Linked DNA regions of Homo sapiens: region 1 is linked to region 2. A link means that fine-mapping ties the variant in region 2 to the expression of a gene that starts in the linked region. Tissue or cell type: testis. Region 2 holds a variant in brackets; the other region holds the start of a gene. All regions are shown on one strand. Distances are between the middles of the regions.

Region 1 (8,109 bases), 340 kb after region 2:
GGACTTTTCTACAAGTAAGAGATAGCTGAGTAAAAAAAGTGCTTGTGCAACCAGCTATCTCAAGCAGAATGAAAAATTGAGGATACTGAGTTTCTTCTCTTGAAAGGTAAGTGGTTCATAAAATACTACCTTCTCTGTTTTCTTCTTTCCTGAACCCCTTTTTTCCCCAAAAAGAAAAACACTTCTAGTTTTCCACAAAACTAAAATAAACTTCCAATTTGTCATAAAGCTTAAAATATTAAATAATAATAATTTCTAGTTAAAAGGTATTAATTTGTAGTTAAAATTTTCAAAATAGCAACCTAGCTTACTGTCACTCAAACTAATCATGTCTGCCTATTTGCTAAGGAATTGAAGACAACATATGAGTAAAATGTGCTGCCCAAAGACAAAATCAGGTTGAAGGTCTTTGAAATATTTTTTGTCTTTTGAATCTAAATTTTAACCTAAAAGTCCTAAAAACAGTTACTTTCTTCCAGATACTTAACCTCTACCCACAAGTTTATTGCTCCCTAGAGCCCAATTTAGATTAATAGTTTGCATAAATAATTGAAATTTAAATAAAGGAAGGTATCCTAATAATGTTCTAGACACAAATCTAGTCTGTAAGCCCTTGAGGCAGGGGCCTTCTGGGAGACATTGCTCAGCTGTAATGAACTCACCACATAGTCCTCTAAACCTTCCCTTACTAATGGCTTATTTTGATCGTACTAGCCAAAAGTTTGTCTAAGCCGTCCTATAGCATTTATACTTTAAACTTTACAACTTCTTAGAGTAATAATGTTCTCTATATTTACTAGAATCACATGCTAAGAATTATTATAATTCCTTTTGTCTAGAAATGATCTTATCTTTTATCTTTAAACTAAAAAGAATTCCTTGCTTCTTTTGAGATTTGGCTATAAAGGGTGTGTGTATCCATCCTACTCAATGGCCCTCATTATTTTATTTTATAGACTTTGAATCACCAGTAACAACTTGCAATGCTCGCTTATAACAGACTGAGTCAACTAAATAAGGAAAATAAAAATCCAGTCTCAAGAGGTGTGAAATAATAGCATAGGTTATAGTTGCCACTCTGGAGTACAGAATACAGTGCTGGTATTCTGGGAAACTGCATCTGAGGAGTTTGGAACTTTATTAAGAAATCCTCAGGTATAAAATTGATATTCAAATATGCCACACTTCTTGCTTTTTTGTTTCACATCATCAAAAAAATGTTCTGGTAAATTTGTAACTGGCTGAGATTTCAGTTCATTGGTGATACCCATGGACAAATAAATGTCTGACATTTTCTCTTTGTGTCCATTTCCCTTGCATGTCCCATAATCTCTCTCTCTCTCTCTCCCACCCCACCCCTTTCTCTCTGCTCTGTGTGTTTTGTTTTGTTTTGTTTCCTACATCTCTGTTTTGCTCCTTGTGTGCAAGACAGAGAAAAAGAGTTAGATTGCTTCCTCTCTGTCTGTAGGGTGGTGGACACACTTTACAGACAAATCCTAAAAAAGAAGAAGTAGGATATTCCTCTTTTCAGTTTTCTGGGTGGATGCCTGACCAGCTGAGTGTTTACCTATGTGACTGTGTATTATCTGGGTATCTCTCTATATCTATGTCTATGTTTGGCTGACTCTCACTGTAAGATCTGACCTTTTCATAAGAAGAAAATGGTATTGTATCAGAAAGAGCTTTTCTTGGGGTTCAGGTAAAAAGACAAGGCCAGCCTCTGTTTCTTCAATTGTTAAATAGATTGGGAGTGCTGGGTGCTATTCTTTCTCTTCCTGCTAAACCTCTGCCAACACTTCACTTTCAATGTTGTTAAGTTAGTGAATAATGAAACCTTCAAAGTGACAAACCTGATCCATCTGTGAGAATCCTGAAGGGAATTTTCTATTAGTCTCAATTAAACAATTTCTCAGGATAAATTTTTCTATTTCTCTGCCAAATCATATAGAAATGACAACTGCGGGATATTCCCCCGTGAATGTGTAGACCAATTTAATACCATAATTCTCAATTTCTGAGGTTCTGCCTATAAAAGAGGTACTGAGACTTTTCAGTATTTATCACACACACCTGCATATATACTCACTACAACTATCTAACACACTTCAAACAGTTCAGGGTCTTTGAGTAGTGGTATTCAAAGTTAGCCATAGGCGATTAGAGGTGGCATTTAAGTGCCAAAACAGATAAATTTTCATTTTCACTTGGTATTGTCCAGGAAAGAAACATTTAACCAATGAAACGATTATGAACATGAAGTGTAAAAAAGATAAAATACTCATTAATTTGAGTGGTAGATACAAAATGGAGGCAACAGAAACAGACATTTCTAAGCCACCTAAGGTAAATCTTTATTTCATAGTATATCTACAATTTTTAAAAATTCAAAAAACTATCTCATAGTTTCATAGTCTGCATAAGAAGCTTCAACCACAGTTGCTATATTAATAAAGTTTAGTCAAGGGATTCTCATGTTCTTTCTCTTTATAAAGCAGAGCAATCGTAACCCTGCAGATTTTATGTTTTAAGGCCTTCTCTGAAAAGTTCTCTCATAGACCAAATTGCGTGAAGTTGAAATAACCCAAGAGGATGAGAAAGCTGAAAGAAGACTTGTATACTTAACTAATTCCAATAATCCACACATTTTCCCCAAACTGTTTTAAGAGTAATATCCCCTTGTATTATAGGTTTAGTATAATCTTAATACAAGAAGGTAATCTATAAGAATAAAAATTGCCTACCATTATGAATTTATATAACTAAAAAATATACAGGTATTTAAAAGAATATTAGGCCAGACCCTATTCGCTATTTTTTCCGACCCAAATACAACACTACTGCTTTAGACTTTTATTGTTTCAGGCATTGGCCAAAACGAAGAAATAAAGTTTAAAACCTCAAATTAAAAACAAATAACAAGTCAGATATTTGGGGAAAATACTTTGAAACACTTAAATACAGTTAGTCTCAAAATCAGAGGAAATATTTACAAGCCTAGTCTTAAAAGAGATTCTAATCTAAGAATTAGTATAATCTAATCTACCATTTAGGGAAAGCATTATTTATTTAATTATTTGATATTTCAGTGTACCTCTGTCTTTCCCTGTGCCTCCAACTAGGCAAGGAGCCTCTTAAGAAGAGGGGATGTGTATTAATTACTTTTTTTTAATCCCAAGAAACCACAGAGTATCTGTGGTATAAGGCACCCAAATAAATATTGTTTCAATGAATGAATAAACAAGGCACTATGGAACTGCATAGAGTATTTCCATTGCTTTGTTCCAAGCTCTACTGTACTCCATATACAGAAATGTCTTTCTCATTATTCTCCAAGCAAGAGATGTCAAAATAACAGCCTCTGAAGGAAAAACTTAAAAAGATATTCAACATATCTTACTTATGAAGTTTAAAATTATACAAAAGAATTAAAAACAAGTAGAAAACGCAGATTTCAGTAAGATGCAAAGTTTATAAGGTCTTAAAATGTGGAAATATATAACCATTCCCATCCAAAATATCTTGTAGGAAATGAATGTATAAATGGATGGTATTTTAAAGACACACTAAGGCAAGAAAACTTTAACGCCAGTAGCAAGGTAGGATGGCATCTTTTTGATTTTTTTCTAGTTGCATTAAAAGCACAATAGTTACTGCTTCACTTCTACGTTTCTCATGTTTAAGTCAAACGAAATATATAGATGAATGTACAGTGAAAAACATAGCAAGAAGAAACTTGAAGCACCAATTTGTCCACAGTAATTGGCTTCCCATTTTGCAAGCACTGAACTCTTTCTTAGGTTCAACCTCAACTACTCTCCCCGGCACAAAGCACCTTTCCCCGTGACCACGAGGGCCAAAAGCCTTTCCAGAGATTTAAATCTTGTTAAGTAGCCACTTTCGCAGCCATTCCCAACTTGAGGGAAACCTTTCCACTGAGATTAACTCAGAATTTGGTCAGTCCCTGCTGCTCACTTTGGGGAAAAATGTGGGAGAAGGAAGAACAAGAAAGATAAAAGCAAAACTCAACTCTATGTTCCAGATGTACCTACACCCTATCCAACCCCTTTCTTTCCTCCAGTTCTGGGCTCTGGACAGGTGGGAGGGGGTGAGTCTGTCTGGTAGGAAGGGGATGCAACTAACTTTCCCCCACCATCTCATTGCCACCCCACCCCACCCCAAATCCAGCCCAACTGGTAAATGAAACCACCAGGTAAGGCTGCCTGCATCCTCCTCCCCCCTTGGGAGAGGGATGGGATGGGGAGGATGGGGGGCGCGTGTGGGCGGGATGGAGGTGGGGGTGTTCTGAACTACAACTCTCCTTACCACTGGAGCGCCTGACGATGTTCTCCAAAAATGTGTTCTGCGGTGCCACCAGCCCTCTCTTGCCCCCCGGCATCCTGGGTCTGGAGAGCAGCGGCCAGGATCCGCGGCGGGGGAGGGGGGGATGCAGGCAAAGAAGGTGGAGGAAGAGGAGGAAAAGGTGGAAGAGAAGATTGAGCCGAAAGAAGAGGGGGCGCGGCGGCGGCGACGGGGTCCCCTGACTGTGTCTCCAGCCCGACCCGGATGAGCAGCTCTGGGGAGGAGGACCAGGCAGTTCATGGTAGTAGCGCTCCCCCGGCCGCCGCTGCCCAGACTGTGGCGGTGCCGCACACGGGGCTCGGGAACTGCAGGCTCCGCGGGGCACAGTGCGCCTGCGCCGCCCCCGCTGTCGCTGTCCCGCCGGTGCTGATGCTGAGGCTGCTGCTGAGGCTGCTACCGCGGCGGCCGGCGCCTGGGCGCGGGCTCTGCATCTCTCCCCCTGCTGGGGAGCGCAAGCGGGAACTCAAGCCCCCACCCTCCCAATCCCCCTCAGCTCAGACCGAGACCCCTTCCCCGCGCCTTCGTCTCCCGGTCTCCTCGTCCACCCCCTCGCGCAGCGAGCTCCGGGCTGAACAGCGTAGCCCAACTTCTGGGCTGTGCGCCTGGTGGTTGCTCCTCTCCCCGGAGATCGAGGCAAGCGATCGCTGTCCAATCGGGCCGGTGGAATGGGAGAAGAGGGTGCCAGAGAGAGCAGTGGCCAGTCGGAGGCTCACATCTCGGCGTCTCCCGCTCGGGTCCCGAATCCGGGCTGCTGGCGCGGACGCGGCTCCCGGGGCGGAGGTGCGGGCAGGCTCCAGCTCCAGCCCCAGCCGAGGCTGAGAGCAGGGCAGGGACTGGCTGGGCGGCGCGCGGGGACGCAGAGCAGCCACCTGACGCTGCTACCGCCCCCCTCCGGGCTCCGGCGCCTGAAACCTTCCTGAACACTGGCGCTTTCCGCACCGCCCTTACCCCACCCCGGAGCGGGAGCGCGAGCCCTGAAGTCCGAGCGCACAGCCGGCGCCCGGAATGGCCCCTGCGACCCGGGCCGGGCTTGGCGTCTGGGGGAGCGTGCGGCCGCCCAGGGGAGTTTCCCCCAGGACCGCTGAGCGCAGGAGGCGATCCGCGAGCCCGCCACCGCTGCAAAGTTGCGGGAAAGGTTGCACTTGATGTGAAGAGTAGGGGAAGAGGGTGAATAATTCACACCCGAGAGAGGGGGAGTGAGGAGGGCAGTGTTAGCGATGGAAAAACGGTAAAGGCTGTGGGGGCGAAGATGCGCCAGGGTGGAGCAGGGCACGAATCACCTCTAACAAACCCCCCAATTTCCAGGCGTTGAGAACGGACAGCAGCGGCACCGTTACAAACAGTCCAAAAGCCTGAATGTGTCACAGAGAAAGGAAAATGGCATAAATGCGAAAGGGGTGGAGAGAGATGGAAAGGAAAGAGGAGCCCGCACTGAGGCACCTTCCTTGATCTAAGGCAGTGGTTCTCAAAGTGGCCTGGACGGGCAGCATCCGCATCTGCACCACCTAAGAACTTGTTTATAATGCAAATTAGTGGATTCTACCCCAGAGTTAGGGAACCAGGAACTCTGAGGATTGGGTTGACTCATCTGTTTAAACAAGCCCTCCAGGTAAATATGATACATGTAAGGCTTCCTCTTTTCTCTGGGGGCTGCACCTGGGCCTGTCGAGAAAGGACGATTGTGCAAACAGGGTCAAAGAGTGGGGGACCAAAAGTGCACTGCCGCGGCGTCAGCGGTTGGTGGTAGAGCGAAGTCTTCAGTGTTGAAGGCGAAAAGATAGTTGGATGGGTGCGTCCCCTTTTGCTGGGGTCAGAATGTGCTAGAGGAGAGGTAATTGCGTTAGAAATTATCAAGGTCAGATTACCAGAAGCAGGGAGAATCCCCAGGCAGGGGTGGAAGTACACATCTCAGCACCTGTCCCCTTTTGGAACCCCCTAGATTACTAATCACTGACCTCAAGACAGGATCTCTCTCTCTCTGTCTGTCTCTGTCTCTCTCTCTCTCCCTCCTTGCCTCCCCTCCCCTCCCCTCCCCTCCCCTCCCCTCCCTCTCTCTCTCCCCTTCTCTCTCCCCTTTCTCTCTCTTCCCACCTCTCTCTCTCCCCCCACCTCTCTCTCCCTTTCTCTCCTCTCCCCAACTGGGTAAGCCTACTGCTTGAAGCAGCTAAATGCAAAACCAGGATCCAGCCTTTACCTTGGGGTCATTTTTTCCCTCTCTGAAATTTTCAGAGACCAGGCAGCTGAGCAAACCCAGAAGGTTGACACGAGGCAATTTTATTCCGCTAAAAATCTTTATGCAAAAAAAAAAAAAAAAAAATCAAGAGACTCGGTGGAATAACACTAGGCTATTCTAGCTTTCCACAGGAAGTGCTGCTGGCCATGGAGCTTATCCCCTTACAGTTAAAATGTCTTTTAAATACATCAGGTGTGTTTAGTTAAATAACAAGAGACTCAGGTGCAGATTGGATCCGTAGTGAGCTTGCCACAGCAGCACTCAAGAGATACGGCCAGGTTACAACTCCCTCCCTGCAGTTGGTGGGAAGAACTGAAACCACCATCACCACAGCAGCCTTAAACACATAATTGAATTTCCCACTCTAGCGATTCTTTTGTGACCTGTGTTCAAATGATCCTAAACTAATCAGTCATTCATTGGCTGGGTTGGTGAATAGACAGACTTATTTTTTAAACATGTATAATTCATTGATTGCTATTCTAGACTTCTAGCATGCTATAATAATTCCATCATCATTAACAGAGAATATTTCAAATCTATATGTTCTTTTGCACATCGTCAGCTGCCCACATCTCGCCTATGGGTATTGATTTAAAATCTCAGGTTCTCAGCATTTCCCATCTAGTATATATATTCTTGTTCCTAATCATTCCTCTGTGGGTGTATTAACTCACATTTCCCAAAGAGGAAATTCTTTTGGACTCCATTAAGACACAATCACAAAATTACTGGTAGAACTTTCTTATTCCCATCTGCAGATTCAATTAAATGACATTTATCCTTTCTTCTTTGTTTCTAATAACTCCATAGCATTATAACGTTTGGATTATTTTAATGATCATAAAAAATGTAGCTGTGTAGTGTCAAAAGGTTACACACTTTTCTTAATCTTCTAGTTTAAATTTTCATTTTATAAAGGAAGAAACCAAGACCCAGAGAGATGAAATATCCTGTCCCAGATGACACAGTGCTTTAGAACAGTCTGCACTGAGACTAAAATCAGGTCTCCTGACCCTGTAGCCAGAGCTCCTTGTAAATAATAGAAAATAACCTAATCTTAGGCTAGTGTGGTAACAACCAGCAACATCAAGGATCTCTATTGCCATCGATGATTTTGCAGCCCATGAAAGAAGAGAAACCCTTGGCAACAACTTGCAACTGTTCCCAATCAAAATAGAGTCAAGGAAAATAGAGTAGCAGCATCATATAGATTGACTGGCCCTAAGGAATATGCTGGCCAGTTGCAACAAGGTGCTAATACAGCATTTTAAAAGTGTGTTACAGACTCCGTATGTGGGGAACAAACCTCAAGATTTAACAGATGAGAGAGATAGGAATTAGAAAGCTTCAATGTCACACAAAGACAAAGCTTCGTTTTGTTATATTGTCAAAAGTCCATTTTAAAACAGAATCATTTGTTCTTTTCTTCTGTCCCTCCAGGTATGGTAATTAGACCTTGTCTGTGATAACCAAGAATTCCAATCCCCAGAAGTGTTCACTGACTCCTAAATCAC
Region 2 (8,109 bases):
TTGTTACAACCACCTGTCGAGGATACAGCATCTGATCTTACCTATTAATAACATCATAGAAAAATATTGAAGGTGTGTAAATTGCTTTGGAAAATGTTTGGATTTCTAATACATATCCATTTACTCCTATTAATATATTATTTAGAAATATAATATTAAAATTTTTATTCTGGATGCACCAAGAGCATCTATACAGTGTAGGAATAAAACATGCAGTTATCTGGTCCTCAAAAGAGCATCTACTGTCTATGTGCTAGTTGAGGCAACATAGAACATGATTTTATCATTATTGCATGTATTAAAGCAAATATTCTCCCTTCATTCAAATCTGAGTAAATTCAACTGCTAAGATTTGTGGAATCTGGGAACCTAAAAGACTACTCTATATACAATGTTTGCTGAAAACATGCATTCCTGCTGAAAACAGCAGGGTGCATTCAGCACCTCTTCATATCATGCACACAGAGAACAGAGATGGCTGAAAAGACACTATGATAACTGCACCATAATTAAACAATTGATACTTTCCCTCCTTCCTAACAATCTGGAGTAATTCAAAACCATTATGTTTCTCACATATATGAACAATAACATTGTAGGTCGATTAGGTGAAACTCTACGTCAATGTCAGAACACAGTAAATATTTGCACCACTAATATGCAAAGCCATGAATTAGAACTTCAAATCATCATGTTGTTCACAGTCATTCTTTTATAGCTTTACACCAATAGTTAGTTTTGAAGCACTGGCTAAAGTTAAACTAACAACTTCTATAATCAGATTCTTATTTTAACCACACATTCACCTTTAAAAGCTTAAGCCAAACTTGACTTAAACAAATAGAAAAATACCCTGAAATTCAATAAATGTCAGAGGTCACGAAAAAGATATCATCCTCACCATGAAAGCAACAAAATTCCAATTTCAAGGCTGATTCTTTACTCCATAATTATTTCATTTTCTTGTGTTTGTGGTAGGTAGATATTGTAGCATTACATGGAGACGTGTTCCCCTGAAAACTTCCATTATGGTTAATGGAAGTTATACGCATAAAGAAAGGAAAATGGAGCCCATGGCTCATATGTTTTGAGACTCCTAGATTAAAGAGGCACATCTTGTGGGCATGTGAAGTTCAATAGAAATTCTAAAATAGCAACTGTTTTTATAAATCACTGTTTTGCACTTCTCAAGTCTGAATGTGATAACATGTCTTTCAGTTCTAGTGGCTTTGGTTGGGAATACTGGGAGATAGAAAAGCTCATACAAATGGGTATAATAGATCAAGATATCTCCTTCGATTTTGCCATCATCTTTTGCATATTGTTAACATATATGTACAGATGGTCCCGTAATATATAAATTACTCACACATTTTTTTCAACTTCATGCAAACACTAACTCCCCTGCTCCCCATATTAAATGCTGTGCATGCACTGACTGAAAAGTATGCTTCCCTGAACGACTTCCTAAAATACAGTTTAGTCAAAAGAAATAAGTTCTCCTGGGTTCTTACAAGTGAATGTGTATTTTATTCTCAATCCTTATCATTTAAGGGACTAGCTATATACAGGACAACTCTTTGTGACTTTTTTTAAAAACTTGATAATAGGCACTTTCTACAAAGAGGATTTGAATTCAAAAGACTAAAATTCAGTCTTTAGTATCCCCCTTTCACAAATGGACCTGCCTGAGCCACAATAGCTTATTGAATCAACTCAGCAGAAGTCCAGCAGTAGAACTGTGTGCAAAAAGCTTTAAAAAACTATAACCACAATAAAATGATAGAAAAGCAGTTATCTGAGTCGAGCAACTTAATGTCTACTTCTTGGTTGGTTGGTTTGTTTGTTTTACCACATTTCATGTGTTATCACTACAAACACTAGGATTCATGTGTCAACAATCCGTACCAGTGTTTCATTCTTTCTAAGTTATATACATGCCACAAAAATTTATCTATCTGTTTACATTCTTTTTTATTTTATACCATAATAGTTAGCATTTTGATATGATTACTTAAATGCTTTATTTTTTGTATGTTTCTTTGCTAACAAGCCTTTCAATGTCACTCTTGAACATGTTTTGGAAATACAAATTTAGAGCATTTATCAGCTTTGGAAATTCAGCATCTCTTACATGAATTGTCAAAAGGCCCTTATACCCTGTGGTGCAGTGTTTCTATAATAACATACTCTATATTAATAGTTTAGTATTTATGATGTTGATAATGTCAGCTTACAAGATGGCAGCTGTTCTCCAAGAAGGAGGGAGTAGGGATTTCCTTACATAAGAGCTAATGATTACTATCTAAGTATAATGTTAAAAAACGAGAGGTATAGTTGATCAAAAATGTAATTCATGCACAAAACCCATAGCAATAAGTTTTCAATATCCCACACTCTTATCTGACTTAGGCAACTAAACAGTCATTTAAATGGAGCAAACACTGCCTGTAGGGGAAAAGAACCTAACACTAAGTTACAGAAAAATATCCTATGGAAAGAGATCATAACATGGTACTAATAGTTTAAAAGACTGAACTCTTCCTTGGCATTAATCTATACTTTTAACTTAACAGAACAGTGAGAAAATGATAGCTCGATATACATACTCAGCCTGAGATCAAATTTGTCATGGCAACATTGGCAGGTTGGACCCTGATTCTTCAAATATTACATTGCCTTGGGTAACAAAAATCATACTCTTTTATTATAGAATAGAGATTATAAATAAATGTAAAGTGTGCATGCAGTCAACTGCATAATATACAAGCAATATCTATGTTTTTAATCATCATCTTCTTTGGCAGGCCAGAATCCAGCTGGACATGCAATATTTACATATCAAAATCCATGTGTGGTCATCATCTTGAAAGCAAGTGAAAATATATATATGTATATACTGTATATACACACATATGTATATACTGTTTTAATATATTAACAAATATATATGTATATATATTAAAAGTGGATTTCATCTTTGTCAGATTCAGGTGATTCAGGCCTTGAGACACTAAAAATATCCTGACATGGTATCTGGGGGGGTACTTGGAGTGGCATTTGGGATTTGGGAGATGAGGCCTGGGGTACGCTTTTTTCCGACAGTATTTTTAAAATTTCTGCCACCTGCTTTTCTAGGGCAGTCATTCTGCAGCTGAGCAGCTGGATGTCCTCTTTGAGTTCGTGTTTGACTTCCTGCAGTGTGGTCTGTAAGGCCTGCTCGGGGATGGGATAAAAGGGGTGCTTGGCATCAGCCTGGATGGGACTGTGCTCTAGCGGACTTCGGGCCTCCCCAGCCTTATCCAAACGAAGGTCACTTTTTGTAATTCCACTGTCACAAGAATCTGTTTTTCTTAGTGGGTTTTTGGTCACACTGTTCTCTGAATCACTGCTCTTGGGGTCCTCAGACAATAGCCCCATTGACTCAGCTTTAGTGACATTATTCCAGTCTTCCTTTTTCTCCTCATGGGCTCCCATATTATTCTTGAGTCGCAGCCACCCTTTTCCATTTCCATTCTTCATTCTTATTGGGCTGTTGACTTTGAGACATTTTTGGTCAGCACCGCCGTTGGGCTTGAGTTCCATGGCATCACGGTTGTTCTGCTTAAGGGATTCACTGGTTTTCACATAGGCCAGAGACGTCTGAATGGGAGTAATCTGTGACACAGTCACCACGCTGGTTCCGGTGATGGAGG[C/T]TCCATTCTGTAAGGAGCGGCTCTCTACCTGGAGTTGGTTCCTCTCAGGGTCACCCTGTGTTGAGCCCTGATTCCGCAGCTCCTTCTGCTGCTTGAACTTCTGGAAGAGCTTTCTGACTGGGTGGTCCACGGGAATGCTGAGGGTCACCTCATTCTTCTGCCGGAGGCGCTCCTCCTCCTCTTTCTTCACATCACTGATCTTACGAAAGATGATCTGTGGAACGGGAGAGATAGTCACAGCCTGATTATAAAAGCAGATGGATTAACAGTTGTATAATACTATGCTGTATGTGCTTTGTGTTACAAAGAAAACCCTTGAATATTTGATAAGATTATTTCTCAAGAAAAAAAAATTTAAATACCATTTATGGAATTGCATTTATGAAATTTATGGATGCAATATGGCTTAAACCCAACATAGAAATGTTGGCTACTTACTTACTTAGTTCTAGTCCCCTACATATCAGAGGGAGAATTACTCAAGAGACAACTGAATAGAGAGGTACTTTGCTTCTAGTTTATGTTCCCCTTATATTGCCGTTAGTAGGAAATACACACATACATACACACATACATATTTGTATATGTATATATGTGTATACATATATAAGGAAATACATATTTATCCCTTAAATTTCTCTGTAATGAATTGCCACTTTTGTATGATTTTCCTTATTGTGTAGAAATAAGTTTCAAAACCATTTTTAATATTATCCTCTGTTGGCCGGGCGCGGCGGCTCACGCCTGTAATCCCAGCACTTTGGGAGGCCGAGGCGGGCGGACCACGAGGTCAGGAGATCGAGACCACGGTGAAACCCCGTCTCTACTAAAAATACAAAAAATTAGCCGGGCGCAGTGGCGGGCGCCTGTAGTCCCAGCTACTCGGGAGGCTGAGGCAGGAGAATGGCGTGAACCCGGAAGGCGGAGCTTGCAGTGAGCGGAGATCGCGCCACAGCACTCCCGCCTGGGCGACAGAACGAGACTCCTTCTCAAAAAAAAAAAAAAAAAAAAAAAAAAATTATCCTCTGTTTGGGTATCAGATAGTAAGAATTCCAGGCTATAAGTGTACTGAAAACTTACACAGTTTAGCAAATGGCATCTGGGTTGGGTGAGGGGAGAATTTAAATTGATTTATGCGACCCTAGAAGGCAGAACTAGAATTTGTGAGGAAAAGTTTCCGGGAGGTAACACCAGCTTAGTACACAGACTTCATTGCAAACTGCTCTCTATTGAATAAACTGCCTCGAAAACTCATGATCGTTCTACCACTAAAAGGTTAAGATAGAAGTATGTTTTCCATATGACATGTTCACTGGGTTGGAGGTTGAACTCTTCAATTTCCCAGATTCTTTACATTTTAAACATAAAATTAAATACATAGTACAGGTGAGGGGTTAGATATCCACAAATAAATGAGCATCATTTTATTTAAAATGTATTTTGAAGATAATAATGGGAAGAACTTATGATAACCCCATCAGAAGAAATAAAAAATGTTGGCTATATAAGAAATTGCCACATATATTATCAGAGTTGGAAGTAAAGTTAATAAGTGTGAGATTTTTGCTCAGAGTCCTGAAAAGCAAAGTAACTGCAGGTGAAGGCTGTAAGGAAAATCAAAAAAGAGTTATATTAGATAAGGCACTTTCAGAATCAGACAATTTTATCACTCAAGGAAAATAACTTACCTTGATCACCCTCTGTAGGTTGTTGGTTAGAGTAGAAACACATGTGAAGCACGTGTTCTCTAACCCATAACAGACACTCAGCATACGTTGGTTCTCTCTCCTTGAACTCTCATAAAATACTCCTATCTGAAACCATTTACTATCTTTTGAATATTCAGCAGCTGCCTGGAGTAACATATAATCATTGATTTTACACCAAAAACCAATACTACTGATGGTCACCGTTAACAGAAAAGCCAGAAAGATAGGAATTCCCCTTCCAGGTAAGAGTACATTTTCTAAAATGAGATTGATGCACTAAATTCAGTTTATCGAGTGGTACTAATTTGTATTTTGAAATAAATTCAGTAACTGTCTGTAAAGGCCAACATATTTTTTCTTGTTAGTGGCACATGAAATTGGGTCTTTTTAAAATATGTAATAATAATCTCAAATTCTGACATCAAAGCTCCAGCAGTTTAATTAGAAGTCTTTCAAAGGGTTGACACAATTCTTATGCTTCCCAAGTAAACATAGGTTGTACTAAGTCTTCAAGATATGAACATTCTTTAGAACCAGACAGACCCAGACACAGGAACGCAGATACTATTTTCCTATTTCAGCCCCTTTTTGAAAAAGTACTCACTTTGATTCTATGGGTGGACATGAGAGGCCTAATATGAATGATTTTCCACATCCCCCTTCCCACTCACCACTTACCCTTTTTATTTTTTTAAGGTGGTTGTTTAGCCTAGGATAGACATAGTGTTGGCTCGATGTGGTAACTGAGAGCAGCCTTCACATTTGGGAAAATGGAACCGTTTCAAAGTCAGTGGAGTGTGACAAGTGGTAGGCACACAGGAAGGTCAGGTAAAATGCAGGTCCCCTGTGCAATATTTGGGACATACTAAAAACATCAGACATTATAAATCTGAATTGGACATATGTATCCTTTAACAAATATTCTTTGTTTATTCAAATTTTAATTTTACCTGGGAGTCCTGTATTTTTGTTTGCTAAATTTGGCAACCCTATTGGTATATAATAGACAAGGACATTCCTATTTTGTAATGTCTACATGTCCTGCCATGCAGAGACTATAATGAAAGATTTGGTATTACTGACATCTGAGAATTTGTGGGCACCTTAGGCAAGAGCCTTATTTGTTTAGATCTTTGAATATAATGGCTAATAATTGCTTGCAATTATTGTGTGCTTACCAAGTTCAGGGTGTTTTGTGTTGTAAGACTGTAACATGTCCATGTAAAATATCAATAAAATAAATCTTTCCCAGCTTCCTTGACCACCAGCTGCCCCCCACCCACCCCCAACCAAGAACAAACAAAAGTGTTTGAATTGCTACTATTTAGCTAGAAACAAAGACTCCAAATACCAAAATACATAGAGCAAAGGGGGTCTTGGCACAGGGCTTGATTTCTCACCTATACTAGGGGACAAATGAGACAGAGCTGGATCTGTATTTTGCTGTCGAGAAATGTAAAAGTAACTGGGAAAGAGAAAGAATCGAGCTCTGGTACATTAGATGACAGAATTCTGAGTATTGCACATTGTTCCTTTCCCCCTTTTTACGCCCGGGAGATAGGAAGTTAAGTAATTTTAAACATAGCTCCCTTGAGGTTTGAGGGTACTTATGACCAACAAGACTGGTCCTGAATTGTCATCAAGTTTGCAGAACAGCAGGACCTACACATCCAATCTCAGGAGCCAGCAATGCACAGCGGAAAAACATGCTCTTTAGAGAGCCAAAGTTCCCCTCTTTGCTCCTTGCCCTTCACTTCCTTTATAGCTCAGAGGGGTACTGGCTAGGATCCCCTAGAGCTCAGGAAGCCACTGAACGTACTCATTTGTGAATTCAGTCTGCTAGAAGCCAGGCAAGGCAAAAGCACTGTGTGAGGTGGGAAAGGTTATTGCACCCTGTAGGTGATCTGCCACCAGGGACTTTCAGGCCATCAATTATGCCACACATAAAGAGAGCCAGCAGTTGGACGTGACTAGCTCAAAAGCCAACACTCTGAGGAGTGGCTACAGGCCCTCCAGATCTCAGACACAAGCCCTAGGTCCTGAAGTAGATCCCCCTTTCTCCTTAGCAGCAGGGCCTGCTGACAATCTGCAGCCCAGTGAGAGGAGAAGCAGGTGCAGGAGGAAGGTTAGAAAGAGGGGGTCATGAGGCGATTTATCACCCAATCTATACAATTGGAACTGACACCTAACCGCAAACAGTAACACTTGGATTTGGTCAACTACTTATTATATCCAGGTTTTTAAGAGGTAGTTTTTTTTAAAAAAAATACTAGTTTGAATTGACTTTATAGGATTAGAATAAGACAAATTGACATTTGTTTTATTTTACTTTTGACTATGGAACAAAATAATGGCATTGTAAAATGATAATAAAATATCTGTATATAGCAAAGTGGTCACTTCCACACACGTATTTTCTCATTTAAGTGTCATGGAATGAGAACATTTTACGAGCTAGGACCTATTATTCTCTACTGTAGGACACAGGTCATATTATTCTTTTATCACAGAGAAGCAAATTGAGGCATAAAGAGTTTAAGTGGTTTCCCTTAGGTCACACAACTGTGTGTCCAGGATGCAAATCCAAGGGGTCAGATTCCAAACAGTCTTAACCATTCCACTCTCCTGCTCCTCAAGGTAACTTTTATACTTTCTCCTGGACTCCGTGAAAACTCGGATAGATGAATGGGTGAAGTAGGAAGTCG

Evidence for each region. PIP is the estimated chance that this variant, and not a neighbour inherited with it, causes the effect.
Region 1: it holds the start of KCNH5, and the variant in region 2 is fine-mapped to the expression of KCNH5 in testis (GTEx, PIP above 0.99).

What each region holds. Positions count from the first base shown.
Region 1 is chr14:63,040,791-63,048,899 of GRCh38, forward strand. It overlaps KCNH5 (potassium voltage-gated channel subfamily H member 5), which reads right to left and starts at 4,668. Exons shown (of 11, transcript NM_139318.5): 1 at 4,324-4,668. The coding sequence starts at 4,396. RefSeq lists enhancers at 3,929-4,432, 4,433-4,936.
Region 2 is chr14:62,704,547-62,712,655 of GRCh38, forward strand. KCNH5 (potassium voltage-gated channel subfamily H member 5) reads right to left here. Exons shown (of 11, transcript NM_139318.5): 11 at 1-3,909. The coding sequence ends at 2,962. Among named protein-coding and RNA genes, the nearest start is that of KCNH5, 340 kb to the right of the region's middle. RefSeq lists an enhancer at 6,750-6,919. The variant C/T (reference allele first, on the strand shown) is at 3,696.